Linked DNA regions of Homo sapiens: region 2 is linked to region 1. The links come from fine-mapping of genetic effects on gene expression. A gene starts in region 1. The other region holds a variant in brackets. All regions are shown on one strand. Distances are between the middles of the regions.

Region 1 (8,489 bases):
TCTGTTGGTTGCCCATGCCATTCCCTCTGCTTGCTTTCACTGCCTCTTGCATCCAGACGTTAGCCGGTTAAGTGGAGTTGTACTTGATGCCACTTCTTCCAAGAACTCTTCTCCAGGTGCACAAACCAGATTTTTTTTTATATTCTTTTAGCAATTTTGTAGTACTCTGACAACACTTGGCACATATCTTCTTATACTCTTTTGTATATGGAGCAGTATTTTTATAGGTGAAAGAGTCTAATTTTGCATTATTAGTGTATATATGATATGTTGGATACCAGTTGGAGATCTGGTGATGTCATAAAGCTGTTGGTCTTACTATGCCTTTCCCAGAAGTACCTGATGAAGTTGGAACAAAATAACTTTTCACCTATTCTCTGATTACTACAGTCAAGGCTCCAGAACCCTAGCCATTGGGCTCAAATGTGCCGTTGAAGGTGATTTTCTGTTCCTAGATATTTTCAACCTCCCTGTTTCATTTCTGACCAATTTTTAGGGCCAGAGGCTAATCCACTAGAACAATATTTCCCTGTGGCATGGTTTTTAATTTTGTTCTGAATTTAGTTTATATTCCTAAGTGGCTTTACAAGTTTTTTCTCCCCATGCCCTCAGAGGAAGTTATGTTCTTCTGAACCTTCTGGGTACCATTTTAGTAAATTAAGAATTCAGTTCACTGAATGCTACCCCTGTGGCCTGAAAGAGTTAATACAAGTTTCTTAAGTACTTTATTAATTCTCAGGGAATAATTTATGCACTAGAGCGTGGCTTAGTATCGAGCCAGTTACAAACACATTAAATATGTTTTTTTTTTTTTCCTTTTGTGTAGTAAGTCTCTGAAAATAAGTGGAGGTTCACTTTAAGTGTAAGTATTTTGCTTCCTAAGTACTTAAATATGTATAATTCCACAATGAGAGAAGGAGTATTATAACAGAGGATGAGGTGGATTCAGGTCCTAGCTCAGCCCTGCACTTCTGTGAGGCCTTGGTGTGTTTACCTCCCTAAATGTCTCTCACCTCTAAAGTGGGGACGATGTTTACATCACAGACAGCAAAGCTCAATGATGATGCACTTAGGTTTTAATGCATAGCCCAGGCTTACTGCTTGGGTTTGATTCTTGGCTTCACTACTTGATAACTGTGTGATCCGAGGCAATTTTATTACCCTCTCTGACTCAGCTTTTTCCACTGTAAGCTGGAATAATGCTAGTACCTGACTCACAGTTGTTACGAAGGTAAGTGTGCAGTAAATGTGAGCCATTCATATACATCATGGACTACTATGCAGCCATAAAAAGGAACAAAATCATGTCATTTGTAGCAAGGTGGGTGCAGCTGGAGGTTGTTAGTGAATTAACACAGGAGCAGAAAACCGAAAACAACATGTTCTCGTAAGGGAGAACTAAACATCGAGTGCATATGGACATAAAGATGGGAACAGTAGACACTTGAGACTACTAGAGCGGGAGGGAGGAAGACGCAGGGCGGTGAAAACCTACCTGTTGGGTACTATGCCCACTACCTGGGCTATGGGCTCGTCTGCACCCCAAACCTCAGCATCATTTAGTATCCCCATGTAACCTGTGTATGTACCCCCAAATCTGAAATAAAAGTTGAAATTGTTTTTCAAAAAGTGAGCTGTTATTTTTTTTAAATACTCATTTGGAGGACTTTCTGAGCTGATCAAGTGAAATAAAATAAAAAGTGCCAAGTACTATGCCTGGAACATGGCAGCAAACAGTGAATAGAGGATGACTTTTGCTTTTATTAACTACTTAAGGTTTATCTATAGCAAGTTCCAGTCTTAAGATGCACATGTGAAAAGCTGCCTGTCACATGAAAGAGTTTGATGCCATGTAGCTTGTCATGTTGTCAGACTCTGTCCCTGGAGTGTGCCCCTCACGTTTTTGTGCATGTCACTGTGGCATTTATGTGACTGGTCTGCGCTTCTTTCTCCTTTTTACCCCTTTGGCTGCAGGATGTTGAAGTGCACTTCAGTTTTGTCGTTCTCATTTCCCTTCTGGATTCTTGCTCCTCTCCTACTTCTGCTGCCTCCTTCCTCAGTCCCCCATTGCCTTCAGCTGCCCTGTGGTTGCAGTTTAAAAAAAAACAACAAAAAAAACACAACAAAACAAACACACAACAGCCTATTTAGATGTATACCTTTGACTTTATGAGGGCTGTGGTTTTGTGGGAAGAGCAGGGTCTCACCCTTATTAGACTGTGGTTCATAATCACTTAAAGAGAACGTCATTCTTGGAGTTACTCATCTGAAAAAGAAGCCTGCTCCTCCAACTGGAAGGGGAATGGGGCTGGGGAGGGAGGGGGTTACTGTTGGATGGAACTGTGCTTGGCTATTGGACCTGAGTGACTGAACACAGTGTCCATGAAGGAGCTGGCTAGGCATGTGTTCTGCGGGGACCAGCCCTGTGAGGGCAGAGGACTAAGAAGCGAAGGATATGGGCAAGGAAACTGTGGAAGTCATACCTGCCTTTTTGGGCCAGAGTACATGTATCTTTTATTTTTTTTTGAGACGTAGTCTGGCTCGGTCGCCCAGGCTGCAGTGCAGTGGTAAGATCTCGGCTCACTGCAAGCTCCACCTCCCGGGTTCACGCCCTTCTCCTGCCTCAGCCTCCCGAGTGGCTGGGCCTACAGGCACCTGCCACCACGCCTGGTTAATTTTTTTTTGTATTTTTAGTAGAGACGGGGTTTCACCGTGTTAGCCAGGATGGTCTCGATCTCCTGACCTCATTATCTGCCCGCCTCGGCCTCCCAAAGTGCTGGGATTACAGGCATGAGCCACCGTGCCCGGCCTAAGAGTACATGTATCTTAAGACCACATCCTGGATTGGTAGATACAGAAGGTTTACTCCTTGGGCAGTGCTGGACTCTTGATGAAGTAGCAGGTAGAGGATGAAGTTTGGGGACTTTGTGCCTCTCACATTTATGCCTGCTTTTTAATGTAGCCCAATAACAAAAGGTCATGCTATTGGTGATGGGTGGGTAAGGTACCTACTAACAGTAAGTTTAGCTTAGGGAGAGGTAAGCCATTTTAAGTCTATCAGTATATAATGGATCACAGAAGGAGAGAGTGGGAGACACTCAGTCTATCAGAAAACATAGGATGGATGTGCCACAGAGGAAGAAGTTGTCACTTAACAATGAGTGTGGAAAAAAACAAAGTTTATCAGTGTCTGTGTGGGCGTTATTTATTTGGGGACAGCATCCTAAGGCAGGCATATTCCCACAGTGGAAATGGATGTGGTGTGATGCCATGAACTTGTGAAGCAAGTGAGTCCCTTTGTTGTGATTCCAAATTTACTCAGCACATAACTGATTATTATCTGCTCCCCAGTGTAGTTGTAGTGGGACAGATTACATTGCCCAGAAGAGTTCAGTATTCAGTCTTCTTGGTGGTTATTTTGTTGTAAATTAATAATACTGATAGTATGTCATTTTGCTTTTTATAATTGATTGTCTTTAACTTTGCCCTGAGGCATTTTTCCTAATCAACTCTAGACCATGATAGAGCCTTTGGGCCACAAGACTAACAGTCTTACCTTGAACCACCAGTCAGTGAGGTGTTTGGGAAAACCTTTTCCTGGTGATGTCTCATCTTTTCCTTCTACAGTCACCAATGTCATATTTACTGTGTTAAGATGCTAGGCTTTGTACTGGCTTGTTTACTTCTCACGATTTATCTTGCAGTATGATAGTTTGTGTGACACTGAAAAAAATTAGTAGGACTGTTAAAATAGTTTTTTCCCCCCATTAAAAGTAGAATGACACCGTTTTGCTTCTGAAGAATTTGGCTTTAACTGGTTTATATTTTGAGCTGGGTATTAAAGGAGAATTATGGTAGGGTAAACACAATTAGTGACATCTGGTTGCCCCAAGAATCAATAATATCTGATACTACATACATAAATAGATATCTATGTTGTGATAATATATCTTAGTTTCACTGGGTAAAACTAGAAGAATAAAAAATTTGAAAACAGCTTGGTTACTGACTAAGCTGCAGCAGTTCTGAGAGCCTACTGTTGTCATTTTTAATGGGCAGCCTTGTACTTCCATAGATTGGTTAATCTTAAAGGCCAGATGGTAGTTGTATTGTAATTTCATAAAGATTTTATGTCCTATGTTTTGCTTTCAACTAGAAGCATGAGAATTTAGGAAAGTTATATTGAGACATATAAATAATAAAAATTGGTGAATCATTTTACCTAACAATTTATTGATATTACTCAACACAAGGAGAAAAATTAGAAAATGGACCTTAACACCACTGTCTACTATGAAGACAGTATAGAGGAGGCAGGAAAAACAGAAAGCACACAATAACATGATAGCTATAAATTCAAGTGTCAGTAATTACAATAAATGTAAATAGACTAGAGGATTCTGCTAAAAGACACGTCAGATTGGATTAAAAACATCTGAGATACTAGGTTTACAAGAAGCATATCTAAAAACAAAGATACAGAAGGCAAAATAATGGAAAATTTTATTTCAGGCTCACTTTAAGCAAAATAAAGCTGGTATAACATGTTGATATCAGACAACATAGAAATCAAGGCAAAAGGCATTAGAGATGAAGAGGATCACTGCACAGTGGTAAAAGGTTCAGTTCAGATATAGGTACATATTATATAAAGCAAAAATATACAGAAACAAGAAAAATAGCTGAATGCACAATCCTAGTGGGAAGTTAACATACCTTTCTGAATAGTACAACTTGCAGACAGAAATCTTAGGATATGGAAGACTTAAAGAACATGATCAATGAACAAATCTGACCTCATGGACATTCATAGAATGTTACAGTTCCTGTATAATCCATTCTTTTCAAGCACATGGAGCATCTGACATTGATTACATATAGGAATATAAAGCAAGTATTGATAAATTTCAAATGATTGAAATCATGTAGAGTATTTTTCTTACGGAATTATAGAAGGAATCAACCAAAAGATAACAGGAAAATCCTTGTATGTCAATAAATTAAGAAGTATATTTCTTATAATGTATAATATATAATTTTATAAATATATAAATATATATTTATAAAAGTTTCATTTAAAAAGTTTTACAAAATGGAAAAATCTGTCACTTAAATACAAAATCACTGTACTTCTGACCCTACTAAATGTAAAAATTGTCAGGATTTGGGAGGTTTTTTTTTTGATGTCCAAATACTTGATACACGTTCCAGAGATCCCCAATATTTTTGTGAATTCTTCTTAGGAGGCTAGTGATCATGTATGTGGGATTAGGAAAGTAATTGTTTGAGCTAAATGGGGGAAGAGATCATTCCTGCTGGTAGCAGGGAGGGTGTGCCACGACGAGAGATCTGTGGATTTACTGAAAACACGAGATTTACATCCAGAGCTTAGTTCACAGGCTGTGGCTCCTGTTTTTATTCATTTAGAGGCTGATAGACCAGCTGTGCCTGTAGTTACGTGTTCTTTGGCCAGACACCTAAGGAAATTTGAGGCTCAGACAAGCTGAAGTAGATATTTCTGTTTCCATGTTGAATAACAGAGCCACTCATGGGCTGTCACAGATACACTGTTTGGGGTTTTACCATTCCTTCCCATTTCCATTCCTGAAGGAAAAAGAGAAGAGATTTTTCTTTTTTTTTCAGATTATTACTGTGTTGGTGACCTAGGGAAACCCTTTTTTTTTCTCTTCTCTTTTCACAAAGTTCTGAGGAGCATGAAAAAATTGAGGTATTCACAGTGTCTGGGGAGGAAATGAGTTCTGTCCTGTATTTTCCGAAGAGTGGGAATCTAAATCGGAACAGGCACCAGGTTGAAGAAATAATTTGTCACATCATGGATGCAGGAACAAGCTCTACATGGGAATACTTTGTTGTAGTTAGGGTCTGTCTTGAGGGAAAACAAGACATAAAGGGTATGTGAAATGTTTTCTGGTGATCATATCCCACCGTGTCATTAGTTCTTTTAAAGTACTTTTTCTATATTATCCCAATTTAGCTTTTTTTGCACCCTGCAGCAATTCTATTTCTATTTTGTTTCCTGTTATCATTGTTCCCTTTTCTGAGTAGAGGATAGATAGGTAAGTGGTGTAAGTAATGGCATGGAAAGATCCAAGAACCATTAAGTAGATTATATCCCTTTTTACTATCCTTTTCTTAAAGTGCTTGACTTAATTCTGAATAGCCACTTACAAACTTTGATGAGTATCTTTCATCTTGGGGGTTATTTTGAAAATTGATGGCATTTGGAATAAAAGTTGCTATAACCTTAGTGTACGTTTGGGTTTATAAAATATACTGAACATAGGAACTCACATGACTCCCAATTTTTGAAGTAACCATAATTTCTAAAAAAAATTCAAATGAGCTGAGTTACATTTATACCACTCCTGGGAATTATTAGAATAGCATATGTTCTCTGTTTATGCTCTTTGTAAAATTGGAAAAGTAATGTGTAGCTCTTTTTAGTAGTGCCCTGTGTGTAGTTTCTGTAACAGTTCTGTAACTGTAACTTACCATTCCAGTCTATTTCTGAATGGTTAGTGGAGCTGCCCGTCAAAGCCAGACCTATTACAAGGGATGATATTTCCCCTGTCATGAATAGAAACTATTGATGACTCGATTAACATACAAGGATGATACAGTTCATGGTTAAAGGGAGCATGCTTCCTTTTGCTGGTGAAGGAACATTAACTGTAGATTTCATCTAGAAGATCACTAGAAAAAGCAGCCTCCCATGTTTGAGCGTGTCCTGCATGTCAGTTTCCATGCAGATGCTTTCTGTACGTCTTCACGTCCTCCTCATCCATGAGGTTGGAGGTGAAAGTTACGTAACTGACTTGCTCAGGGAACACATTTCATGTTGCAACCGGGCTCCATAGCCACATTTCAGACCATTTTTCTTTTCTTTTTTTTTTTTTTTGGGACAGACTCTCGCTCTGTTGCCCAGGCTGGAGTGCAGTGGCGAGATCTCGGCTCGCTGCAAGCTCCGCCTCCTGGGTTCACACCATTCTTTTGCCTCAGCCTCAGCCTCCCAAGTAGCTGGGACTGCAGGCACCCGCCACCACACCCGGCTAATTTTTTGTATTTTTAGTAGTGATGGGGTTTCACTGTGTTAGCTAGGATGGTCTTGATCTCCTGACCTCATGATCTGCCTGCCTTGGCCTCCCAAAGTGCTGGGATTACAGCGCCTGGCCTGACCATTTTTCATTTAACCAGCATTCAGATTATTAAGTCAAACGGAAAAAAAAAACAGGGATATAAACCTATTAGAAACCAATGTGACTGTTTCATGCCTTACATTTATGTCTGGAAAGTTGAATATAAGGAAAAAGTTGTTTTTTGAAATAGTTTTTCATTGGTTCCAATGATTATTCGAGAGTTTTCCGTGAAAGAAGTATAGGTAACATAATAAAAGTTAAAGTTAACAGTCTTAACACTTCAATTGTAAGAATATTTTGTGGTGTCAGTGTATTAATAGCTCCTGAAAGAAAATTGTCAAATGTAATCAGTCTACATTTTTTTCATGTGTATCAAAGCTACCCATTTATTAAATCACAGAAGTTAATTGTGTTTCATTGGGAATTAATATTGACTTTATAGGTCTTGGGTAGATTATTTAAATAGCCCTGCTAGCTAATATGTTAACCCCTGCCCTTATTACAAATACATCCTGACGGATAAGGGCAAAATATTATTGACTAGATTATGCTTGAATATCTCAAAATGAAAACAGAATGAAGCAGCTAACCAAGGAAACGATTGGACTTAAAGTGTACGTACTTGATCACGTTAAAGAGGCCTCACTGCTGTGTAACAATAGATGCTTAAAATAATCCACCAGCCAACACTCACTACATGTGAAAGTGGTTTACTTTCTTGTGTCTGTGGGGAAGCTCTAATTATATGATTATAATTAAGCTACAGTTTATTTTCTCATTTTCTCTGATTAAATTGTGGTGGGAAATATCTGGCCAAATCTAGTCTTTTCTTAGTCATGTTATTTGTTAATTCCATTGACACATCTTATTAAAATTTGCAGCAAGGTGTTTTCCTGTTAAAGTAATTGAAGATTTCAGAGTATCTTATATCTAAAAATTGTGAATATTCTCTGAAACTAGACCTAAAGTTCTTAAAATATAAATGCGTCATTCACGTAGATTATGGAGTTACTTTTAAAATGTAGCTATCCACTGAAGAAAATTGTGAAAATGTCCCATTAACGATTTGCAAATTTATTTATTTAGAGATGGGGTCTTGCTTTGTTGCCTGGGGTGGAGTGCAATGGTGCGATCGTAGCTCGCCATGGCCTCCAACTCCTGTGCTCAAGCAGTCTTCCTGCTGCCTCAGCCTCCCATGTTGCTTGCAATTACAGGCCTGAGCCACTGGGCCTGGCTGCCATTTGTAAATTTAAATCTTAACACTTATGTGGTGTTTCCAGTTAGATTTCTTCTCCGTTCTTTGCATCACCTTCTTAGATCTTCCCCATTCTT
Region 2 (8,489 bases), 89 kb before region 1:
TAGTAGTTAAAATGAAGGAAATAGAGCTACGTGAATCCACATGGATAATTCTCAGAACAAAATCTCTTGCCCGAAAAAGCGAGTTGCTGAGTTCCAACTCTACGATGCCATTCATATAAAGTTTAAAAGCCTGCAAAACAACACAATGTATCTTTGATGGCTACATAAAATATATATGTTGGGAAGGTATAAAAACATAAATGAAAATGAAAAATACTAAACGCAAGATGATGGTTACCTCTGGAGAGGGAGAGCAAACAGTGTGATCAGAAACAGAGACATCCAGGCTTTCGATTACTACCTGTGATGTTGTATTTCTTTAAAAGACAAGAAAAAATTTGGAGGAAACAGCAAAATGTTAAGGCTTGTAAAAGTCGAATTGTGAGTACGCAGCATTTAACCCACCATTCCCTATATGTTTCTGTATGTTCCACATTTGTCATTGTATATGAGCTAGATAAAGAAGGAGATCAAGATCATCTAGAGGCATAACTTAATGAGATGTAACCCACATATGGCGAATTCCCACCTCTCAAGGATACAGCATGATGAATCTTTACAGAGTGAATTCCTCCAGAGAAGGGTATAGAATCTAGCATCCCAGAAATTTCCTCTCAGTGGCAGCCCCAGCAAAGAAAAAACACTATTGTGATATCTACCACCATTGATTGTATGGTTTTTTTGTTTTGTTTTGAGACAGTCTTGCTCTGTCTTGCCCAGGCTGCAGTGCAGTGGTGCAATCACAGCTCACTGCAGCTTTGAACTCCTGGGCTCAAGTGACCCTCCGGCCTCAGCCTCCCAGGTAGCTGGGTCTACAGGCGTGTGCCGTGACACCTAGCTAATCTCTTTTATTTTTTTGCAGAGATGGGGTCTCACTATTGTGAAACCCAAAAGTCTGAGACAGGTCTCAGTCCATTTAGGAAGTTTGTTTTGCCAAAGTTAAGGATGCGAGCCCATGACACGGCCTCAGGAGGTCCTGGTAACATGTGCCCAAGGTGGTCAGACCACAGCTTGGTTTTATACATTTTAGGGAGATGTGAGACATCAATCAACAAATGTAGGATGAACATTGGTTCAGTCCAGAAAAGGCCAGATGACTCAAAGTAGGGAGGGGGCTTCCAGGTACAATTGGTTGTATTCTACTGAGTTTCAGATGAGCCTCTCCAAAGGAGGCATTCAGATACGCATTCATCTCAGTGAACAGAGGAATGACATTGAGTCGAATGGGAGGCAGGTTTGCCCTAAGCAGTTCCCAGCTTGACTTTTTCCTTTAGCTTAGTGATTTGGGGGCCCCAAGATTTATTTTCCTTTCACGTTGTGTTTCCCAGACTTGTCTGGATCTCCTGACCTTAAACCTCCCTCCCTTCTTAACCTCCTAAAGTGCTGGGATTACAGGCATGAGCCAGCATGCATGGCCTGCGTTTTGTCTTTTGCAAGAAGGAATTGTCAGACGTGTGTGAATGAAAGCAACTCCATCTTAAATAGGAGCTGGGTAAAATGAGGCTGAGACCAACTGGGCTGCATTCCTAGATGGTTAAGGCATTCTAAGTCACAGGATGAGATAGGAGGTCAGCACAAAATATGGGCCATAAATACCTTGCTGATAAAGCAGCTTGCAGTGACGGAGCCGGCCAAAACCCACCAAAACCAAAGTGGCCACGAGAGTGACCTCTGGCCGTCCTCACTGCTACACTCCCACCAGCACCGGGACAGTTTACAAATGCCATGGCAACGTCAGGATGCTGCCCTGTATGGTCTAAAAGGGGGAGGCATGAATAATCCACCCCTTGTTTAGAATATCATCCAGAAATAACCATAAAAATGGGCAACCAGCAGCCCTCGGGGCTGCTCCGTCTATGGAGCAGCCGTTCTTTATTCCTTTACTTTCTTAATAAACTTGCTTTCACTTTGCACTACGGACTAGCCCTGAATTCTTTCTTGCGCGAGATCCGAGAACCCTCTCTTGGGGTCTGGATCTGGACCCCTTTCCTGTAACATATTTACGGCGATCACAAAGGGATTAAAGTGCAGAAACCCTACAGAATCACGCCAAATCATACGGTATATTCTCGTGAATGGCTGACTTCATTTTCTCAGCAGTATGTCTCTGGAGTTCCTCCGAAGAAGCCGTTTTCTAATCTTCAGCACTCATCCAATCAGAAGGCTGGAGCTCTGCGCTCGACATAAGGAAGAACTTCATCATTAACTCCCCGAGCCCTGCAAAGCAGCTGGGAGGGAGATCTAAGTTTTTGGAGTGGATTTCAGGATCCTTTGTACCCACAGCTGTTTAGGGAGCCGGCGTCCTGCTGACAGCTGTAGGTGGATTTGAAAATGTTCCCAAATTCCCTCCTGGCCCTCAGTTTCCCATTTCTCTTCCTCTCCTGATGTCGGCTCTAAATAAAGAAAAAACCAAGTGTCAGGGGCTGCAGAGAGGCTCCTGAGAATGCTCACATCTCAGCTCTCAGACAGCTCACAAGGGGTGTTAAAATAATTAAAGCTGAAAAGGGAGATGTAGGTATTATTTTTAGACAAGCGTCTAAGGTTTACCTGTTATACGTGCCCTTCATTCCTGTCCCTCATTCACTGCCAGCATCTTTTTTTTTTTCATTAAATAGAACAAAAATACACTTAAATTTTATGGCATGGCTAATAAAAAAAAAGGTTAAGTTGAACTCATTTCATCAAAGATTTGTGGTGGGATGACCCACTGTAGTTTTGTTGATGTGTTTGCTTTTTTAACAGACTTTATTTTTTAGGGTGGTTTTAGGTTTACAGCAAAATTGAGCAGAAGGTACAGAGAATTCCCATATACTGTCTGCCTCTCCAACACACACACAGCCTCCCACGCTATCAACATTCCTGCCATCGTGGCACATTTGTAATGGAAACCAAGAGTCTCTGAGACAAGTCTCAATCAATTTAGAAAGTTTATTTTGCCCAGGTTAAGGACATACCCATGACCCAGCCTCAGGAGGTCCTGATGACATGTGCTCAACCTGGTCAGGGTACAATTGGTTTATACATCATAGGCAGACATGAGACATCAGTCAATACAGGCAAGATATGCAATGGTTCAGGATGCGAAGGTGAGACAACTTGGAAACAGGGGCGTCCAGGTCATAGGTAGATTTAAAATTTTTCTGATTGGCAATTGGTTGAAAGAGTTATTATCCGTAGAAAGGAATGTCTGGGTTATGATAAAGGGTTGTGGAGACCAAGGTTTTGTTTTGTTTTGTTTTGTTTTTTGAGATGGAGTCTCGCTGTGTTGCCAGGCTGGAGTGCAATGGCACGATCTCAGCTCACTGCAACCTCCACCTCCTGGGTTCAAGCGATTCTCCTGCCTCAGCCTCCCAAGTTGCTGGGATGACAGGTGCGTGACAGCACGCCCAGTTAATTTTTGTATTTTTAGTAGAGACAGGGTTTCACCATGATGGCCAGGATGGTCTCGATCTCTTGACTTTGTGATCCGCCCGCCTCGGCCTTCCAAAGTGCTGGGATTACAGGCCTGAGCCACTGCACCTGGCCCAGATCAATGTTTTATCCTGCAAATGAAGCCTGTAGATATCAGGCTTTAGAGAGAATAGATTGTAAATGTTTCTTGTCAGACTTAAAGAGTCTGTTTTATCAGCAATTCCAAAAGGGAGGAGGGGATAATGAGGCATGTCTGGCTTTCTCTTTCCAACATGGCCTGAACTAGTTTTTTCAGGTTAGCTTTGGAATGCTCTTGGCCAAGAGGAGGGGTCCATTTAGATGGCTGGAGGACTTAGAATTTTATTTTTGGTTTACAGAAAAAATTGATGAACCTTACACTGTACATCATCATCACCCAGAGTCCAGAGTTTACATTAGGGTTCACTCTTGGTTGTGGTGTGTTTTCTCTGGGTTTGGACAAATGTCTAATGACATTGTAGGATCATACAGAGAGGTTTCACTACCCTAAAAATCCTGTGTGCTCCCTGCCAGCATTTTTTAACATCATCTCTTTCAAGTTGTTTTTGTCAAAAATGTTAAATTACCAAACAATGCGGCGATATGTTCTTGCAAAAGTAAAGGCTACAGATACGTGCTGATGGGTTCTCTCCACTGGTCTGGAAGCATGCAGCACTTACAAAGCGTCCTGACATGGGATCTGTTTCCTGCGTGTGCAGTGGTTGGTGGGTTACACTCTACCTGTCTGCTTCCCCATGTGTGGGAACTACAAGGTGGGCCACAGTTCCTGGTCAGCCACCACACCTAGCCAAAGACTTCCAGAGACTGCTCACAGGTCCCTGGAATCCATCCGTGAAATTGTCAGAGGCATTTGAACCAGAGCACCTCCATCTTGAAGAGGAACTGGGTAAAATGCGGCTGAGACCTACTGGGCTGCATTCCCAGATGGTTAGGCATTCTAAGTCACAGGATGAGGCAGGAGGTCAGCACAAGATACAGGACATAAAGACCTTGCTGATAAAATATGTTGCAGTAAAGAAGCCAGGCAAATCCCACCAAAACCAAGATGGCAACAAGAGTGACCTCTGGTCATTCTCACTGCTACACTCTCCCACCAGCATCATGAGTGTTTACAAATGCCATGGTAACGTCAGGAAGTTCCCCTATACGATCTAAAAACGAGAGGCTTGAATAGTCCACCCCTTGTTTAGCATATCTTCCAGAAATAACCATAAAAATGGGCAACCAGC[T/C]GCCCTTGGGGCTGCTCTGTCTATGGAGCAGCCGTTCTTTATTCCTTTACTTTCTTAATAAATTTGCTTTCACTTTACGGGCTCATCCTGAATTAATGAATTAATTCTTTCTTTCTTCTTCTTCTTCTTCTTTTTTTTTTTTTTTTTTTTTTTTTTTTTTTTTTTTTATGGAGTCTAGCTCTGTCGCCCAGGCTAGAGCTTGGCTTACTGCAACCTCTGCCTCCTGGGTTCAAGGGATTCTGCTGCCTCAGCCTCCTGAGTAGCTGGGATTACAGGTGCAGGCCACCATGACTAGCTAATTTTTGTTTTTTTTTTTGTTTGTTTGTTTGTTTTTTTAGTATAGACAGGGTTTCACCATGTTGGCCAGCCTGGTCTTGAACTCCTGAACTCAGGTGATCCACCTGTCTCGGCCTCCCAAAGTGCTGTGATGACAGGCGTGATTACAGGCGTGAGCCACCGTGCCTGGCCCACCTGGCTAATTTTTGTATTTTTAGTAGAGATGGGGTTTCACCATGTTGGTCAGGCTGGTCTCGAACTCCTGACCTCAAGTGATCCTCGGCCTCCCAACCAGGTCCAAGAACCGTCTCTGGGGGTCTTGATCAGGACCCCTTTCCTGTAATATCTTTCTGGTGTCCACAGAAGGGACTATACTGCAGAAACACCCAACCCAAAGGCTAATTTTGGGTAAGTGGTGGGATCCAGTAACAAAATTAATGGACCGACGGAAGTCCAATCCAAACTACAAAAGTAACAGAGACTTGTATAAAACACATGCACACACAGAAACACACACTGCACGGAGCCCCACAGAGAATTCCATTTTTGAATTATTCATTTTTCACTTCCATATTGTCATTGTTTTATCTGCAGTGGAGGGAGAATTCCCTGTTGCTGGTGAAGTTCATCAGAGTCTTATATGCTATGATCGGTGGGAGGGTGGATCACAAAATATGACAGTCTGAATTTGACTGCCAGATCTATTTGCCCACGCATTTAAACCCCATTCCCAACTTAGCTAAAGAAATTATCTCATAATAGTTTTGTTTTTGCATTGTGCAAAAGGACAGCACTAATTATCCAGGTAACTCAGGGCCTCCTGAAGCTCAGAAAACATTCCTGGAAAGAACACAATGAATAGTCACCTCTGCGAGAGGGGAATGCAGAGAGCTGCGATGCTGACTGGGAGAAAAGAGGAAATGCTGCTTGCCTTAGTGAAGCCGATTCAATCTCTGTGCAAGGGAGATACTGAGCTTATTTCAACAAAGAAGCAAAAATGAGATTGAGTTCATTCCCCATTCTGTGTAACCCAAACTGCATTCAAGGATAGTGTCTATTTGCTTGTAATTCCTCTTTGACTTGAGAAGGAAGAATCATGACTCTGGAGAAAGGAAGAATGGAAGAGAAGCAAGGTGCTGATTAGATGCTGGCTGAATTATGGAGAGTCTGTCCAGAAGAGGGGGGAGTTGGTGTACTTGAAGATTCAGCCAAGGAGAACAGTGGAAACCAATAAATTATTTTTGGCTTCTGAGAATAAGGACCTGTTGGTGGAAAAGGTTGGGAATGGAGTACCTGGGAAGGGAGGGAAGGGAGTGTTGTCCGATTTCGATGCAATGCCAGCATCTCTAAACTTGTAAGAGACAGCAGGCACAGTGGCCAGGACTCAGTTCCTCTGTCTGCAGCTCCCTGGGGCCACACAATGCAGTCCAGCTTTTGCCTTTGCCACCTGGAGTTAGGAGAGAAAAGCTTCGTGTTAAAACTTGAGGCACTCGAACGTTTATCAAATCTGAGATCTGCAAGTGTGTGCCTGCACCAGGGATTAGCAAACAACAAAATGCCATTAAAAGCTAAAAACAACAACAACAACTCTCTTTGCAGCATGTAGGTGCCTTTGCAAAGTTCTCTCTAAGCCAAAGTTCGTGGACTTCCAATCTTGTCAAAATCACTACTAATTAATACCTTTTCACTTCCCACTGAAAGAAAAACAATTCACCATTAAGTCAGGCAGCCTACCCATAATCACTCTAACACCTTCTATGTATGTTTTGAAACGTGCTCTCACATTTCATGATCCGTTTATTTTACAAGATGGGTAAACTGCAGACAATTATGGTGATAATACGGCTGAGGTGTTTGGTTTTTATCTGTTCGCAGTAAATTGTGGTTGTTCAAGCCTTCTCAGTAATGATTTCCATCCCTCTCTCAATCTCTTCCTATCACCTGGCGATAAATAGAATGTTTTTAAAAAAGAATGTTAGTTTACTATCATCATTATCACCTATTCAACTAGCAATATAATTAAATAATTTCTTGGTAGGTATGACTCAATTAAATTAATTACACTAACAGATATTCCATGGTACACGCCTCTAAAAATATAAAGCGTATTCACTGTTGTGTGTCATTTTTCTCTGTATAGGCAGGAAGAGCTATCTGGATAATTGAGCAGGCAATTTTGCTTTTGAAAGATGCTATCAAAGTACGCAAGGATTTAATTTCAGATTTTTTATTAGAAGACAGTGCCTTCTGCATGTAATTCTCCGCGGCTGATGCATTTCAGAGGTTCATGAGCAGCGGACACGAAGATAAAAACTGAAAGCCAGGGCTATGGGAATAGCTGGACCATCAGTGGAGTCTTGGCATCTTAGACCTGGTCTCTTGACTGCCTGTTCCTTCTGAAATGTCCTTAGGCCACTTTGGCCAGAGGCATTCTCGGACTTATGAAAAGGGGAACCTGTAGGCTGTTTGTTGAGGTCTAAAAGGATTAAGATTTGAAGGTGACACCCCTGTTGGGATAATCTCCCTCAAAACTCTTCTCTAAACAACTGAAGATAATATCCTTATACCTTTTGCCTGTGGTTCTCTCCAGGGGATGGTCTCAAAGTGTTCTTGAAAATGTGTTTGAAGAAAATAGGCAATGTATTAGTGTGATTTAAAGATTCCCTCCCAAAATTTTCACTTCCACGGGGCTCAGCGGGAAAATAGGGTAATGTAGAGTGAGCCTCTCTCCCTGGTGACATAGGTGGCCTCCTATTAATTAGGTTAGGGAAATGCAGAACTAACTTGCCATTTGGAGAAAGTCACATGAAATAGACTTCTTTTTTTCCGCCTCCAGAATTTTGAATTCATTGAACATGGCCACAGCAAGAGTCATTCTTTACAATCCTCTGACATTTGAAAGTAAGAAGCTTTAGACTTTATTCTAACGCTCTTTTACCTTCTTCCCGGTCCCTGACAACTGTCACACCAGGTCCACAGAGACAGCCACAACTCTAAAAGGGTCAGTTATATGGTAATAATGACAGCTAAGCTCCGCCAGTAGCACTCTAAATTTTGCAAAGTGGCTTTGCAAATATTAGCTCATTTGTTTATGAACCCAAGATCCCTAGCACTTAGCAGGGGTGGTGGTGGGGGTGTGAGTGGGAAGTGTGTTGGATTTCATTTATCTTTTAAAATCCTAACTGGGCTCAGTGTGGTGGCTCATGCCTGTAATCCCAATGCTTTGGGAGGTGGAGGTGGGAACATCACTTGAGGTCAGGAGTTCGAGACCAGCCTGGCCAATATGGTGAAACCCTGTGTCTACTACAAATACAAAAATTAGCCAAGTGTGATGGCACACCCTTGTAATCCCAGCTACTCAGGAGGCAGAGGCACGACAATTGCTTGAACCTGGGAGGCAGAGGCTGCAGTGAGCCAAGACTGGACCCCTCCACTCCAGCCTGGGCAACATAGCAAGACTCTGTCTCTACAAAATATAAAATTAGCCAAGCATCGAGGGGGTCTTAGCATCTTAGACCTGGGATTAGTGGTGCA

Direction of the effects. Positions count from the first base shown, and alleles are read on the strand shown. Sizes are in standard deviations (SD) of each study's normalised expression.
For the expression in breast of the gene that starts at base 4,994 in region 1, allele C in region 2 goes with a lower level than allele T (small effect, 0.30 SD a copy in GTEx).

Evidence for each region. PIP is the estimated chance that this variant, and not a neighbour inherited with it, causes the effect.
Region 2: its variant is the best candidate, but not a certain one, in a credible set for the expression of SDK1-AS1 in breast (GTEx, PIP 0.88).

Annotation. Positions count from the first base shown.
Region 1 is chr7:3,347,092-3,355,580 of GRCh38, forward strand. It overlaps SDK1-AS1 (SDK1 antisense RNA 1), which reads right to left and starts at 4,994. Exons shown (of 3, transcript XR_001744897.3): 1 at 1-4,994. The region is part of intron 1 of SDK1 (sidekick cell adhesion molecule 1); the gene reads left to right.
Region 2 is chr7:3,258,388-3,266,876 of GRCh38, forward strand. SDK1-AS1 (SDK1 antisense RNA 1) reads right to left here. Exons shown (of 3, transcript XR_001744897.3): 2 at 6,249-6,402. Among named protein-coding and RNA genes, the nearest start is that of SDK1, 39 kb to the right of the region's middle. The variant T/C (reference allele first, on the strand shown) is at 4,680.